Linked DNA regions of Homo sapiens: regions 2 and 3 are each linked to region 1. The links come from fine-mapping of genetic effects on gene expression. A gene starts in region 1. Each other region holds a variant in brackets. All regions are shown on one strand. Distances are from middle to middle.

What was found. PIP is the estimated chance that this variant, and not a neighbour inherited with it, causes the effect.
Region 2: its variant is the best candidate, but not a certain one, in a credible set for the expression of PLXDC2 in blood mononuclear cells (TOPMed, PIP 0.82).
Region 3: its variant is the best candidate, but not a certain one, in a credible set for the expression of PLXDC2 in whole blood (INTERVAL, PIP 0.73).

Annotation. Positions count from the first base shown.
Region 1 is chr10:19,813,215-19,818,442 of GRCh38, forward strand. It overlaps PLXDC2 (plexin domain containing 2), which reads left to right and starts at 3,218. Exons shown (of 14, transcript NM_032812.9): 1 at 3,218-3,977. The coding sequence starts at 3,866. It overlaps LOC124902388 (a long non-coding RNA gene), which reads right to left and starts at 3,014. Exons shown (of 2, transcript XR_007062078.1): 1 at 1,188-3,014. RefSeq lists an enhancer at 2,142-2,907.
Region 2 is chr10:20,099,399-20,104,626 of GRCh38, forward strand. All of the region lies in intron 4 of PLXDC2 (plexin domain containing 2), which reads left to right. Among named protein-coding and RNA genes, the nearest start is that of PLXDC2, 290 kb to the left of the region's middle. The variant C/T (reference allele first, on the strand shown) is at 2,577.
Region 3 is chr10:19,789,244-19,794,471 of GRCh38, forward strand. It overlaps the pseudogene RNU6-1212P. Among named protein-coding and RNA genes, the nearest start is that of PLXDC2, 25 kb to the right of the region's middle. The variant G/T (reference allele first, on the strand shown) is at 2,103.

The DNA of each region.
Region 1 (5,228 bases):
AGTGAATACAAACAGCCGTTACTACGTCTCTCCCTCATGTCAGATGGAAGATGTAACATCTTCCACAAATACTTACTTTGTTACTACAAAATGGAAAGAGACACTTCTACTGTGGTGAAATGTGTATGGCAAACCCAAATAATTTAGGCCACAAAATACCCTAGTTTAGCCAGAATTATGAGTAATCTACTTTTTCCATTTCACTCTGAACATACTGTCCTACATACATTTTATTTATTCGTTCCTTGCTACAGTGTAAAGGCAGAATATACTTTAAAAAAATAATCATTCATCAACATTTAAGGCAAATGATCAGAGCTTGAGTTTATTGTTATACAATGTTGCTCTTTCTTCTTTATTTCTGAACAGCAAATCTCATCAAGCATGATTGAGTTTTGCTTACTTGTATCTTCTCCCTTACTTCCGCATTTACTATGTGTATAGCTCTTCAGAATAAAATTAAGATAGGAGTAAACCAATACAATTCAGCAGCATCAGTGACATAACCAAACATATAAAAGTCCTTCCTGACTGACCCTGAATGACCATTTACCCCCTTTCAAATTTTGACATCAAATTTCTACTTACAAAAAGTATATAGTTTCAATCAGGTGGTCAAAGCATTGATGACCGCAAGTAACAAGAAAAATGAACCCTGCGAATACGCACATAAAATAATAAAGGAAAAAAGAAAGAAAATGATAGCAAGGAGAGGTGGAGATTTGCTTGTTCTCAGAGGAGGAAACACCTATTTTTCTACTGTGAAAGAAGGAGAAATAACTCGGTCTGAAAAAAGAGGTGCTTTCTTGAAATGGTTTCCGCTGGATTCCCCATTATTTTAGATATGATGGGAGCTGGAGTTGTGCAGAATATTTTGGGACGCTTTCCGCATGGATTTATGATCCTCAAAAAGAATCGGCATCAATTAAACTATAGTTGACCCTTGAACAGTATGGGGGTCAGGGGGACGGACCCCCACACAGTAGAAAATTAATGTATAATTTCGACTCCTCATAAACTTAACTGCTAATACCCTACTGTTGATTAGAAGCATTACTGATAATATAAAAACAGTTGATTAACACATATTTGGTATGTTCTACATATTACATACTGTATTCTTAAAATAAAGTAAGCTAGAGAAAAGAAAATGTTAAGAAAATCATAAGGAAGATAAATATACTTACTGTTTATTAAGTGGAAGTGGATCATCAGAAAGGCTTTCATCCTCATCGTCTTCACATTGAGTGGGCTGAAGCGGAGGAAGAGGAGGGGTTAGTCTTGCTCTGTTAGGGGTGGCAGAGGAGGAAGAAAATCCATGCAAAAGCGGATCCTCGCAGTTCAAACCCCTGTTGTTCAAGGGTCAACCGCACAATCAGGTTTTGATGAGAAGACTCAGTTTTCAAACTTGATTTTAAGCAGGTATATATCCGGGTACTCAAATTCGGATGTAATATTACATAGAACTTAAACACTCCTAGTTAAGCAGAAATAGAAAAACCCAGTTACCTAAGTAGAAATCAACCTATGGGAGGAAAGCTCAGGAAAGAGCCAGGGTCCTGGCATAATAAAGAGTATAGGCATGATATATGTTTGTGTTTATACGTGTATATCTGTTGTTTGGAAATAAAGAGCAAATTGAGTATTGGATTAAGGGAAACCTTTCTTGTTTCCCATGAGAGAGCCGTCCTTTGAGCATCACATTTGCAAAGGTAGATTGATTATCCGGATCCACTTCCAGTGGGTTTTGTGGCAAGCCGAGACATCTATTGACAGCATCCATAGACTCTTCAGAGCTTGGAGTGGAAAGGACCTTGAACTTAGAACACATGCACATTTATTATGTGATTGAAGTCGTCTTCTCTCACTTTTGCTTCAGTAAACACTTAAACAAAGCCATGTACTTTGCGGTAGGCAATGTTCTATATTTATTAAATATACAGTTAACTCATCCAATCCATTGCAACCACCTTATAAGGGCGTTACTCTAATTCTCTCCATTTGATGGATGGATAACTGAGGCTAGGAGATAAACTGCTCATTGCGGGGGAGGTGAAATTCCAGCCCAGGCTGTCCGGGCTCTAGATCCTGTACTTTTAACCAATAGCGCTTTGCTTCTTTTCCTTGTATTTATCCCTTTCAAAAATGATTAACTGTATGCAAAATAAGATATCAACTAACGAGAGGGCCGGCAAGGGTTAACGCGGAAACAGATCCCCGAGCTGAAAAAACAAAAACAAACTGGGGAGCCAGAGCCCCTGAAAGCTCCGGTAGGAAATTCAATGGGCCTCCTGTTCCTTTAAACTCTCGCTTTCGCCCCCGCTGACACTTTGCAAAGCCGCGGCGGCAGCGGCGGGGACCACGCTGCGGTGCACCACCTTCCGCCACCCTCCCGCGCTGGGCTGGGGTCGAGGGGGCTTCGCAGAGTCGGTAACCGAACCGGCTCTGGTTTGCTTTCTCCACTCCCTAGCCACTACCAGAACCAGCCTCCGCGAAGGGGCGAGCTGTGGTTAACCCTTTCGTGCCCAGGGAGACCCCGCCAGGGTCGGGGCGGGGCGCGATCGCCCCCCGCAGTCGGGCGCGAAGGCGGCCCGGGAGCCAGGTGGGTGTGGGGCGCAGTTGGCGGAGCTGCCCAGGGCGTGCGAGCAGGCTGCGAGGATGGCGCCCCGGCGGCGCGGAGGTACCGCCCCGCGCTCCCCCGATAGCTCCCCGGCCTGTCCCCTCTCCCCGCGCTCTGGGGCAGCCGGCTGCCTGGGGCGCACGGGGCTGGAGTGGCCCTCTCCCTCCCCTTCGCTAGGCTCCCCCGGCTTAATCTGTTGGCCGCGACTCCTCAGCCAGCCCCGAGGAAAGTGCAGCCATTGGACAGGTCTGTGCGGGCTGCCGGTTTCAGGGAGGAAGGTGGGAGAAGCCTGGAGGAGCGAAGGGGAGGGCGGAGGGAGGAGGGAGGAGGGTGCGGCGGCAGATCTGGCAAATTGCGAGCTGCCTTCCCTCCTCAAAGTGTGGAGAAGGAGCGCGGGGGAGCGTGGCGACGGCAGCGCCTCCTCCGCCACCAAACTCCTGGGGCTCCGCGGGGGCTTGGGGCCACCTCCTCCTGAGCCCGGAGGAACCCTCTCCCGATAGGTTCCAGCGTGACTCCCTCCCACTCCACCCTTTTCCTTTCTTCTTCCTCTTTTTTTTTTTTTTTTTTAAACACATTTTTTTCCTGGCTTCGGACCTCAGACTGCTGCAGCCCTAACCTTCCCAGGGCTCAGCTCTTTGGAGCTGCCCATTCCTCCGGCTGCGAGAAAGGACGCGCGCCCTGCGTCGGGCGAAGAAAAGAAGCAAAACTTGTCGGGAGGGTTTCGTCATCAACCTCCTTCCCGCAAACCTAAACCTCCTGCCGGGGCCATCCCTAGACAGAGGAAAGTTCCTGCAGAGCCGACCAGCCCTAGTGGATCTGGGGCAGGCAGCGGCGCTGGCTGTGGAATTAGATCTGTTTTGAACCCAGTGGAGCGCATCGCTGGGGCTCGGAAGTCACCGTCCGCGGGCACCGGGTTGGCGCTGCCCGAGTGGAACCGACAGTTTGCGAGCCTCGGCTGCAAGTGGCCTCTCCTCCCCGCGGTTGTTGTTCAGTGTCGGGTGAGGGCTGCGAGTGTGGCAAGTTGCAAAGAGAGCCTCAGAGGTCCGAAGAGCGCTGCGCTCCTACTCGCGTTCGCTTCTTCCTCTTCTCGGTTCCCTACTGTGAAATCGCAGCGACATTTACAAAGGCCTCCGGGTCCTACCGAGACCGATCCGCAGCGTTTGGCCCGGTCGTGCCTATTGCATCGGGAGCCCCCGAGCACCGGCGAAGGACTGGCGGGTGGGGTAGGGAGGTGGCGGCGGCGGCATGGCGAGGTTCCCGAAGGCCGACCTGGCCGCTGCAGGAGTTATGTTACTTTGCCACTTCTTCACGGACCAGTTTCAGTTCGCCGATGGGAAACCCGGAGACCAAATCCTTGGTAAGTAAGATGCACTTTAGCTTGCTGATTTTGTGCGCAGCTGAAGACCTCTCTGGCACTCTCGTGCTCCCTACCCTCTCCCCCCAACATCACCTATCTGCCCTTGGGAAACTTATTGCAGTTGCTTTTCGGCTAAACTTAGGCTTCCCAAATGGGGAAAGAGGGTTATCAAGAGAAGGACGCCGGGGACTAGGGGTTTTCTTGAGGCTTTCGGGCTTACTTCACCTGGGCGGCAGGGGGTGGTACTGTCTCCCCAAAGTAGCCCAGGGAGGGCTTCAGTGTGAGAGCAAAGCTTCTTCCGTGGATACATCTCCTAGGACCTGGCATCTCCAGGCTGTGTGCTCTCCGGCTCCTCCTCCTTCCTCGCTGCTGGTTAAACTAAGCGTGTGTGGTATGGGGTGGGTGGGGGACGTTGTGAAAGCCAGGGATTGCAGGTCTCCCCTCTGCACGAGAAAATTCCCTGTGGCAGCACCTTCCTTCCCCTGGCGATCCCCACTAGCTCCGTCTAGTGACCTGGGCCAAGCGGGCGCTGGAAGGGGGGCGGGGTAAATGCGGCCGGCGCAGAGGTGGGGAGCAGGTGGGAAAGGTGGAGGCGGGCTCGCCTCTGGAGACCTACCCCTGCTCCCATTGTCCTCCGCCTGCCAGCTTCACAGACAGGCCTGAACGCGCAGAGAGTTCCTTGGAGTGCCCTGATTTTGTCCCCGAGAGGGCCCCCAACCTCCGCATCCTCTTAGTGGCTGTCCTGGCAGGTGCGCGTCCTGCGGGGAGTTGCGCCCCGGGGGCTATCGCCGAGCGGGAGCTGCCTCCTGGAACCCTGCCCACCGCGAACTGGGTGCCTACTCCCCATTTCTGCCTTTCAGTGAAGAAAGTGAAGACACAGGCAGAAAGAGATCTTGGCAGAAATTGGTGAACTAGGGTGGACTTCGAGAGGAGGTGAAACGAGAGAAAAAGAAAAAAGAAAAAACTTGGAGGGAAAAGAAAAGAAAACGAAAACTTTCTCCCTAGGATAATCAATTTGTCAATTTGTTCTTTTCTGGTGTGTGTGTGTGTGTGTGTGTGTGTGTGTGTGTGTGTGTGTGTGTAATTTAAATGATTGCCCGGAAAGTATGCATGCGTCCTCAACAGTCAACTAGAGAGTCACAGATGGAAGGTTGGGGGACACCTGGGGATTCCAGGCAAGGTGAATCTTGAAGATCTTGAAGGAAACCCTTGAGTGAAATTTACCAAGCCGCGACTTAGAAGACAGTCACA
Region 2 (5,228 bases), 290 kb after region 1:
CTGATGGCCCATCATTTTGATAAATCATAGTTTTAAAAATCTTCCACCTACCATTTATTTAGAAATGAAAATTTGAATATTTCACGTACTTTCATTTCCCATCCACTTCTCACAGATCCTCAAAAGAATGTTGTTTCAAAGTTAGTTTTTCTTTATATTGATTGTGTGGGGTTTCTTTGCTCAGCAAGAAAATAGAAAATAATAGTCCATGAAGAGCAAAATAAGAAAAACAAGTGCTAAATTGTGTGAGTGAGGGCTTCTGAGTCATCAGAAAATGTTTTCACAGAACTTTTCTCACTTGAAAAGATCTGCTAGAAAGGTTCTGGGAGGATAATGCCTAGTTAGAGTTGGCTGAGGGAGTGATTATGTTGCTAGGGAGATTCTTTTAATTATGTTTAATTGGTATCATATCATCTGTTTTACTGTATTTTTGTTTTTAGTAATTCATTTTAAAGTAGACATTTAAAAAAATCAAAATACCTTTTGTGCAAAAGTAATACTGCACGGTTACGATTTATGGGGCCTAAAAACACAAACCAGTATGTATTAGTGACACAAAAGAAAAATAAAATATTATTTCATATGTTACCTATTCAAAAATTGAATTAATTGAAAGCATGAGTCTAACAACTTATTCCCTGTCGCAAAATTTATAGGAGGAATTTAGACCAGTACCTTAAAGAAAGCAAAATATGCCCTTCTTGTCACTACACAATAAGAGCACAAACTTTAAAAGAATCTTAGTCTAGCAAATGCTGATTATATCCACGGAAATAATCCTGATCATGGAAAACAGTATGTTGCACTGGGGAAAAGTGAGGAATGATTTCTGGTTAAACCAGTGACTGACATAGCAAGAATTGAGTCCTGTTCTTTCTCACTGGACCTAGTTACCAGAGGAGTTTGTAGTGAAGTGTTTATAAATGTGTAATTCCATTTTCGTTTTGTGTGTTTGTGTGGGAAAGAGAGATAATGAAAGGAAATGGTGTTTCCATGGTAACATAACAGAAAATCCATAACATGGAAGTGATGTGATGTCAGTGATTTTTTTTTCCTCCAAGGGAAAGGGTGGAAGTACAATGAACATTGTGTTGTCATCAGCCAAGTGCAAGCATTTTGTGTAATTCAGAAGACACTGAATTTAATTGATAGTTGACTATAATACGGTTGCTCTGGACATGTCATTCCTGTTGCCCTTCTCCTCTCTCCCTGATATGTAATGTCAGGTGAAATTGCCTTGGCCTGCAGAGTAATTGATAACAGCTTAGCAACACAGGTGACAGAAAGGAAGGGGAAGAGAGTCTTTTGGTTACTTCAATATTTTTTGCCAAAAATTTGGTGCACTGTACCTTTTGATTCTCTGTTCAATCAGGTGATCTTGAAAATGTCCATTACCAGAACACAGTGTTTGCTGAGTACTCATCTCAATTGAGATGAAAATTGCATACTATGTATTAGCAGCCCTAATCATATCTACCCATGCTAAAATTAAAAAAAAAAATTAACAGCACGTTGTGAATTGTGTTGGCAATTAAATGACAATCACCATATTATATTGTATGTTGTTCTCACTTACTAGTTTGGTAATTTAATTTGAACTTGTTACTAAGATTTCAAGCCATTTATTGGCCGACAGTTATGATTCTTCTTTTCTTTTTAAAATTTTTTCTGCCAAATGATGAAAATATGTCAAAAGGAAAAATTGTGACAGAGATAAGTATTGATGGCATCTGGTTTAGGGGTACAGTGGCTTCTAAAAATGATGTGTGAGTATAAAGATTTGAGAGGATGGGGGTAGTGTTGATCTATTTATCCACATTCTTCCAAAGTAGGCGGATGGCTCTCATTTCAGTTCAGCTCAGCCATTATCAGAAAGTTTGTGTTGATTCTGAGTGAAGAAAGGAGAAATTGAATTATGCACCCAAATAAAGCAAACTCCTGTCAACTGTAGTCAATCGTTTTATTCTTTAGACTGAGACTCCTAAGGAATCTACTGTCTAGATCAATCCTTTCTGCTTCTTGAAGTTTCCTGTTTTCTCTCTTCAGCTATTGTGCACTTCATATCTCAAATCTTTGTATTTCAAATCTTGAAAGCTGATTTCACCTAATTTCTGTCTGCAGTCATTGTGCTACTTCTTCTACTAAAAAATGTCTTTGATTAATACTTATCATTGAAAAATCCTTAATGTTCTTACTTTGCTTCCTGGGTTCATCATCAAAAAACTTCAGCTGCTCAAGTCAGTAGTGCGCCCACACCTTAACAAATCTTAAGGCCATTGACTGACCTGCATTCTTGACCTCTTTGTGGGATTAGGTTCTCCTGATCATCTCCTCCTCAGGAAACATTCTCTTCTTCTAGAGTCTATTAAGTGACAATATCTTGTTTTTTTACCAAACTTTTTTTTTTAATTGTTTTTGAGATAGAATCTCACTCTGTTGCCCAGGCTGGAGTGCAGTGGCATAATCTCGGCTCACTGCAACCTCCACCTCCCAGGTTCGAGCAATTCTCCCGCCTCAGCTTCCCGAGTAGCTGGGATTACAGCCCCCCGACCCCCACCATGCCCGGCTAATTTTTG[C/T]ATTTCTAGTAGAGATGGGGTTTCACCATGTTGGCCAAGCTGGTCACAAACTCCTGACCTCATTTGATCCTCCCGCCTCGCCTATCAAAGTGCTTAGATTACAGGCATGAGCCACTGTGCCCAGTCAGTTTTTTACCAGCCTTTCTAAGAGATCCTTGTCTATTTCAGCTCAGTGACTGCTACCATTGTGGTCTAACCTTGTCATTGTTTATTTCTATAGTTCAGAAGTTTTCTGTCTGCTGTAATACCAAATCCACAATCTACATTCCATGTTATTATTCCGCCTAGACAACATCTTACATATATTGATTAAATTATTTTGATTTAGATAACTCGGTGTTTCCTAAATTGCAGTACATTTGCATAATTATCGTTATCTGTCTGAGGGTAAAAAGAACACTCTTTCATGTTTCTCTTTGCACCACAGCCTTTATCCCAAGATATAGTCATTGTTTTTATTCCTACTATCCCTTAGTCCATAAATCTAATCACTCCTTTATTTCTATTAAATGGACTATATGTCTGTCCTATTCCATCACCAGCAGCAGAAGGATTCTGGATATGTTTTGAAGGGATTGGTAATAATATTTGCTATAAATTATGTAAGGGGTACGAGAAAAATAGAAAAGTCCAGGGTGGTTTTAAGGATTTTGGCTTGAGCAACTGAGCAAATGGCAGGGCCTATTATTGTGGTACAGAACACTGCAGAAGGACAAGATGGGGGAATCCTGTTTCAGGCATGGTAAATTTAAGATTCCCATAAAATATTCCAATGAACATGTCAGATAAGCAGTTAAGATCTTTGAGTATAATGTCTAGAGGAAAAATGGCGGCTGGAGGTATAATTTTAGGAGTTTATCAGTTTTTAAAGCCACGGGATAGGACAAGAACACCAAATTATTGAGTATAGGCAGCTAGAGAAGGTATCCTAGGCCCAGCCCTGGAGTACATCCATGTTTACAAAGCAGGAAGAGGTAGAACATGCTTCCAAAAGAGACTGAGAAACAGCAGCCAATGAGGTGGGAAGAAAACCAAGAGTGCAGTGTCTTTGAAGACATTTGCTAACAGGTGTCAAGAAGGCGATAACTATGTGGAGTACCTCTGAGAGTCTAAGAAGGTGCGGACAGAAATCTCGCCATCAGGGTTAATGCAGCCATCAGGGACCACAGTGCTAAGGACCCACAATACTTTTAGGGGCCCCCAAAATATTTTAATTTTTATTTATTTTCAAATCAATAGAAAAATATAAATATAATGACAGTGCATATATAAAAATGAAACCTGCCTGGGTTGTATTTGTGTTGATAACAATGCAGTCATATAATTTTTAATACTGTTTTATGGAAGATCAGGCCCACAAAGGACTTCAAGTGCTCTGATGAGCATTAGATAGGCCATGTAGATGTCACTGCTCATATTGATAAGAACAGCTTTGAAAAAGCCCTGGGCACAGACACCCGAGACTTGTGGGTTCAAGGAAGAGGTGGAGAGGAAATTGAATGTGGATCCAGAGATAGCAGTTTTAACAAACCATTAAAAGAATGTTGTAAAGGGGTGCAGAGGAAAGGAATAGCATCATAGCTGGAAGAGATGTGGGGTTAAAGGCGGTTTGTGTGTGAGAGAGAGAGAGAGAGAGAGAAAACTGGGAAGACACATCTTTTCTTTTTTTTTTTCTTTTTTTTTTTTTGAGACGGAGTATCGTTGTCTCCCATGCTGGAGTGCGGTGGCACGATCTCGGCTCACTGTAACCTCCACCTCCTGGGTTCAAGCAATTCTCCTGCCTCAGCTTCCTGAGTAGCTTGGGTTTACAGGCATGCGCCACCACGCCCAGCTAATTTTTGTATTTTTAGTAGAGACAGGGTTTTGCCATGTTGGCCAGGCTGGTCTCGAACTCCTGACCTCAGGTGATCCGCCTGCCTTGGCCGCCCAAAGTGCTAGGATTGCAAGCGTGAGCCACCGTGCCCGGCTGACACATCTTTTATAAGATATAATTGAAGGAGCAGAGACTTTCAGAGCAGAAGGACATGGGGTCCAGTACCTGAAGAAAGGAGTTGGCCTAAGATTGGAGCAGGTTTTTCCTGATTATTTCTGCTTTCACAGTGAGATAAGAAGTAAAGTCATTAGCTGAGAGTTAGGAAGTCTGAACATAGGTGGTAGATTTGAGGAGAGATGACACAATATGAATTAGTCACATTTATCTTGAAAGAATGGATTGTCTAGGGAAACGCAATGAGATTACTGACAGAGAATGTAAGAAAATTGAAAATATTAGCAGCAGTAGTTACTTCTGGGCAATAGGATCAAATATTATTTTTATTTTTATGGTTTTTGTTGTCAAATGTTTTACACTGAAGTTTTCTCACTTCAAAAGCTATTGAAAATTTTAAGCCTCCTATCTTTAATATCTTGCAGTGGTTTCTACGTTCTTTAGGAATTTTCTGTAGACCAACTCCAGCCCCTTGTAAGAATTCCCTGAAGACTTAGTCTTCAGTGTATGACAGCATTCTGTAATACATATTTTTATAGGTTATTTCAACTGCTCACTGTTTGAATATGTTGTTTTTCTAATGAAAGTAGCAACTCTTTACTGCAGCAGCTAGGTTCCATGTAGGTATCCATTGCTGTTAATGTATTAGTTTACATAAATGTCCT
Region 3 (5,228 bases), 24 kb before region 1:
GAATAATTGAATTGTTTCATTTCTTTGTTTATTGTTTATATATGTATATATATTTTTTCTCCCCCCCCAGTTTTTTTTCTTCTCTATCCTGGATAGCGATTTCTTTTCCCAACATCTCAAAACTTTGCCTCCCCTCTTTTTTTTTTCATCCTCTTTCATGATAGTTTTCATTTATGATTCATCTTTTGATTCCACACTCTAAGATATAAGGGCAATTTGAGAACATCTTGAGCTGAGTACCAACTTTATTAAATAGATAAAAATATGAGCTCTGGAAAACAAATTATGGACCTGAAAACTGTTGGTATTTTAAAAAGCAGTGGGCATATATAGAGGAAAGAGCACATTCTGTACTAGGGTTTCTCTCAAAGGCGATAGGGTTACATATTCAGTAATGGATAGAGCAAGAAGTGAAGACACCAGAAGGGGTTGACTGTATATTTCCATTAAAGTGAATTACATGAGCAAGTTAACAGAGACAGAAAGAATACAGGTTTAAACTTGATGACTTGGGTTAAAGGCAGGTCATCAAGTTTCAGGGCTACTGGAGAAGATCCACGAAATGTGGGCAGTACCGAAACCTGCTTTGAAAGACAGTCTAAGGAGGCTGAACTCTAGTGAAGAGCATAACATCTCGGAGAAAATAATTTTGGCGACAAAATGGAGAAAGGATGGTAGGAAGAGGTATAACTTACTCATTGTAACATTCCAAGCCTGAGATTTCAAGTGCCTGAAATAATAAATTTGGGATGCTTATCTAAGCACTTAGTATTTCTGATATAAAATAATACTGCATTTCTAGTTGCAGTAGAGTTTACCATGTGGTTCTATATTATTTCATTTTTACAACCACCTTCTGAACTAAGGAAGGAATTGTTATTTTTGCTTTACAGAGGAGAAATGTGATGCTCAGAGGGTGTGGCTGACAAGCTCCAGGACACAGGTAATAAGTAAAATCTAGATCTCGGGTCTTTCAATTGAAACTAGAAACATAGGAAACAACAACAGAAGTCACAACAATTTAACAGTTATTTAGAGGTGTCAGTGATTTGGGATTTAAAAATATGGAATTTAACATTTCTGGTTTCAAAGTCAATACACAGCTTCCATATGACACTATAGAGTAAGTAAAAAATAAAAGATAATTTATCTGATGTATCGTTAATTGTGCTTTAATAATTCTCATGTTATTGGCTTGGGATTATAATTGGAAATTATATCTGAAAGTAATAAAATTATAGTTGATGATAGAATGAGACAGTCTTTACCCACCTTTCCAAAATTCAGATGGCTTTCCAAATTTTATTTTTAAAATGTCCACCAAATAATTTTTTAAAAGATTAATAGGTTCTCACAGAGCACAAATACATAAAATAATGGCTGCCTTTTGAAAGATTACATTGTTTTCATATATCTCATTAGTATTTGAGGAGAAATTAGGACTTGTATTTTCTCACAAAATGTGAAGGGAAAGACTCTAATAGCATTTTAAACCACCAAAAGGGCATGATTGATTATTATACTCATGTGGTTGAATTTCTCTAAATTTTGCTTTTTAATGAATCTTTAAATTATAGTGTTAATAGTTACACTTGTTAATTTCAATAGACTATTTTCTGTAATAGAAGAAGAATAAACATGTAGCATAACTAAAGAAAAAAAAAGAAAATCAAGTGAAATGGAAGAGTAAATGATAAATTCTCCAGTCTCTGTTCATCTCATCCAGTCTTTGTTAATCTCATGGTTGAGACCAGAAAGTTGCATGTCAGTCATTTGGTGTGTACTACATATACTCTGACTTAAAAGATATCTGGAATGATACAGCATCGGATTGTTCCTTCTAACACTTAAGTGTCCTTGATACATAGAAAAGAGAAGAAAGTGCCAATCAGGCAGATTAAGACCTTTACTTACAAATGATTCATTTCCGTGCTTGCTTAATTTCTAAAAGTAGGTATCTGGGTGTTGTCCAACAAAATGAATGGAAAAATCCCAGCCTGCATGATATGTACATGTGAGACTGAAGTCACCTGATAACTGGGTCAAGAATTCATGTTACACACTGAAGGATGCACTTCAAACACAGGCTTATACTTTACACA[G/T]CTTAAAAATAATAGTTAATAAGAAAACAACTTTTGAGAAGGGCTAATTTGCTTTGTAGTCAATTCCATCCAAATATGTACATAATAGTTTATATATGTGTTTATAAATGTTATAAAAGTTGAAGAGATATCCTAATTTCCCACTGGTTTGTTGACCACATCTTTATTCCCAGAACCTATGAATATCTTACTTTACATGGTAGAAGGGACTTTGTAGACATTAATTTAAGCACCTTGAGATGGATGATTCTGGATTATTTGGATAGGCATGATATAATCACAAGAGAGAGGGAGGAGAATCAGAGTCAGTAGAAGAAAGTGTAACAATGAGAGCAAAAGCCTGGAGCTATGCAAGGTTCAGGCCACGAGCCAATGGATGCAGGAAGCCTCCAGAAGCTGAGAAAAGTAAGGAAAATGTATTCCCCCAGAGAAGAAATGCAGCCCTGCCAATATCTTGCTTTTTCCCTGGAGACCCATTTTGGACTTCTGACCTCCCACCAGACTAGTAAGGTAATAAATTCATGTTGTTTTAAGACACAAAGTTTGTGTTTATTTATTTATTTTAGAGACAGGCTCTCGCTCTGTCCTGCACGTTGGAGTGCGGTAGCACACTCATAGCTCATTGCAATCTCGAACTCCTGGGCTCAAGCCATCTTCCTACGTTAGGCTTTCTAGTAGCTAGGACTACAGGCTCATGCCACCATGCCCAGCTAGCTTTTTATTTGTGTTATTATTATTATTACTATTATTATTATTATTATTATTATTATTATCGTAGAGATAGGCTTTTGCTATGTTACTCAGGCCGGACTCCAGTTCCCCAGCTTCAAGCAATCCTTCTGCCTCGGCCTCCCAAAGAACTGGGAATACAGGTGTGAGCCACCCTGCCAGACCTGTGGTAATATATTACAGCAGCAATAGGAAACATACTGAAAGTAAGATTTCCAAATAAATGTATAATAATCACATAACTTTGCTATAATTATCTTAACCATTTCTGTATTGTTCAACTTTTAGCTTGTTTCCATTTTTTTCTATTATAAATAGTGCTGAAGTGAATATCCTTATGTATAAATCTTGGCATACACTTCTGATTTATTTTCTTTAGATTAAAAAACTGGAAATGGCTTGGAGCAGTGGCTCACACCTGTAATCCCAGGACTTTGGGAGGATGAGGCAGGCAGACTTGCTTGAGCCCAGGAGTTTGAGACCAGCCTAGGCAACACGGTGAAACCCCGTCTCTACCAAAATTACAAAAATTAGCTGTGTGTGGTGGCACACATCTGTGGTCCAGCTTCTCAGGAGGCTGAGGTGGGATGATCACTTGAGCCTGGGAAGCTAAGGCTGTGGTGAGTTGTAATCGGGCCACTGCACTCCAGCCTGGGCAACAGACTGAGACCCTGTCTCTAAATAGATAAAAAAATAAATAAAATTGGAAGAAATAAGAACTTGGAAATGAAATGACTGCTGTAATATTTTAAAAAATATTTAAACACAAAAATCAGTAAAGATACAACTAACACTTAGATTCATACGTGAAGATGAACTTTTATTAATATAAGAAGTAAAATATTAGTGATAGAGATGAAGTACCCTTTAATCCCCTTTTCCATCCTCCCTCCATACTCTCGTCTCTTCCAACACAAAGATTGAAAAATGTGGAATGATTCACAAATGTGTGAACCACCCTTGCACATGGACGATATTGATCTCTGTGCTGTTCCAGTTTTAGTATATATATTAATGAAGCAAGCACCAAGGTTTCATTTTATTCTTAAAAACACCCTTGAAGAAACTAGCCAAGGTTATACATTATAGCTTCTTTATGACAATAATCTTTTAGACTCCAAAATATCTTCATAGACAAGAAAAGGCAAATGCAGGCATTAAAAGAAGGAAGAATGAGAAAGAGAAGGGCAGAATTGAATAATGAGCTAATTGGAGCTATTTTTTCTAGATAGGCATTTCATTTTCACTGTTGATTTTACCTTACATTTAAAGTATGAAAAGTTAAAATTTTAAAAATCATCTAATTATGCATTTACAAACCGTTACTAATTTTGTCACCGTTCCCAAATTAGCCAGACTGGTCTCTGTTCTGAGCTGTGAAGAAAAGGCAATAAAAAGGATATTGTTCCCTTTACTGTAACTCCACTGTTTTATTCAAGTGTCATTGTGGCCACTTCACAATCTGATTTGAGAAGAGGTTCTGTCAAGCTTGATCATAATTTGGATGAACTCTCTACTTATGCAGAACCCAGCTCTGTTATGAGGATCAGGATTCATTCCAGCTGTAGAATATCACAAAACTAGAGGGTGACCTATCGGAATCCCCAAATTAAAGAACATCTAAAATATAAGATATTCTCAAGGTCTGTAACTTTTTAATAAGTTTTACATTCCAAACTGTGTATATGACAGTATCAGTTTCTATTGAACAACTACTTTGATTCATTTGGAAGAACAAGTATCAGACCCTCGTCGATCTAAATATTCTCCAGCCTTGGCAACATGGTGAAACCCTGTCTCTACTAAAACAACAACGACAACAACAAAAAAAATACAAAAATTAGCCAGGTGTGTGGTGTGCACCTGTAGTCGAAGCTACTAGGGAGGCTGAGGTTGGGGGATCACTGGAGCCCAAGGGGTGGAAGTTGCAGTGAGCCAAGATCATGGCACTGCACTCCTGCCTGGGTGACAGAATGAGACCCTGCCTCAAAAAATAAATAAATAGGCTGGGCGTGGTGGCTCACTCCTGTAATCCCAGCACTTTGGGAGGCCGAGGCACGTGGATCCTGAGTTCAGGAGTTCGAGACCAGCCTAGCCAGCATGGTGAAACCCCGCCTCTACTAAAAAAAAAAAAAAATTTTTTTGCCAGACATGGTGGCACGCAGCTGTAATCCCAGCTACTTAGGAGGCTGAGGCAGAATTGCTTGAACCCGGGAGGTAGAGATTGCAGTGAGCTGAGATTGTACCACTGCACTCTAGCCTGGGTAACAGACCAAGACTCCATCTCAAAATAAATAAATAAATAAATAAATACATATTCTAACACAAGTTTTAGATAATGTAGTTTATATAAAAACAAGATATAAATTTACTGCTATTTAAATGATGCATTTGAAT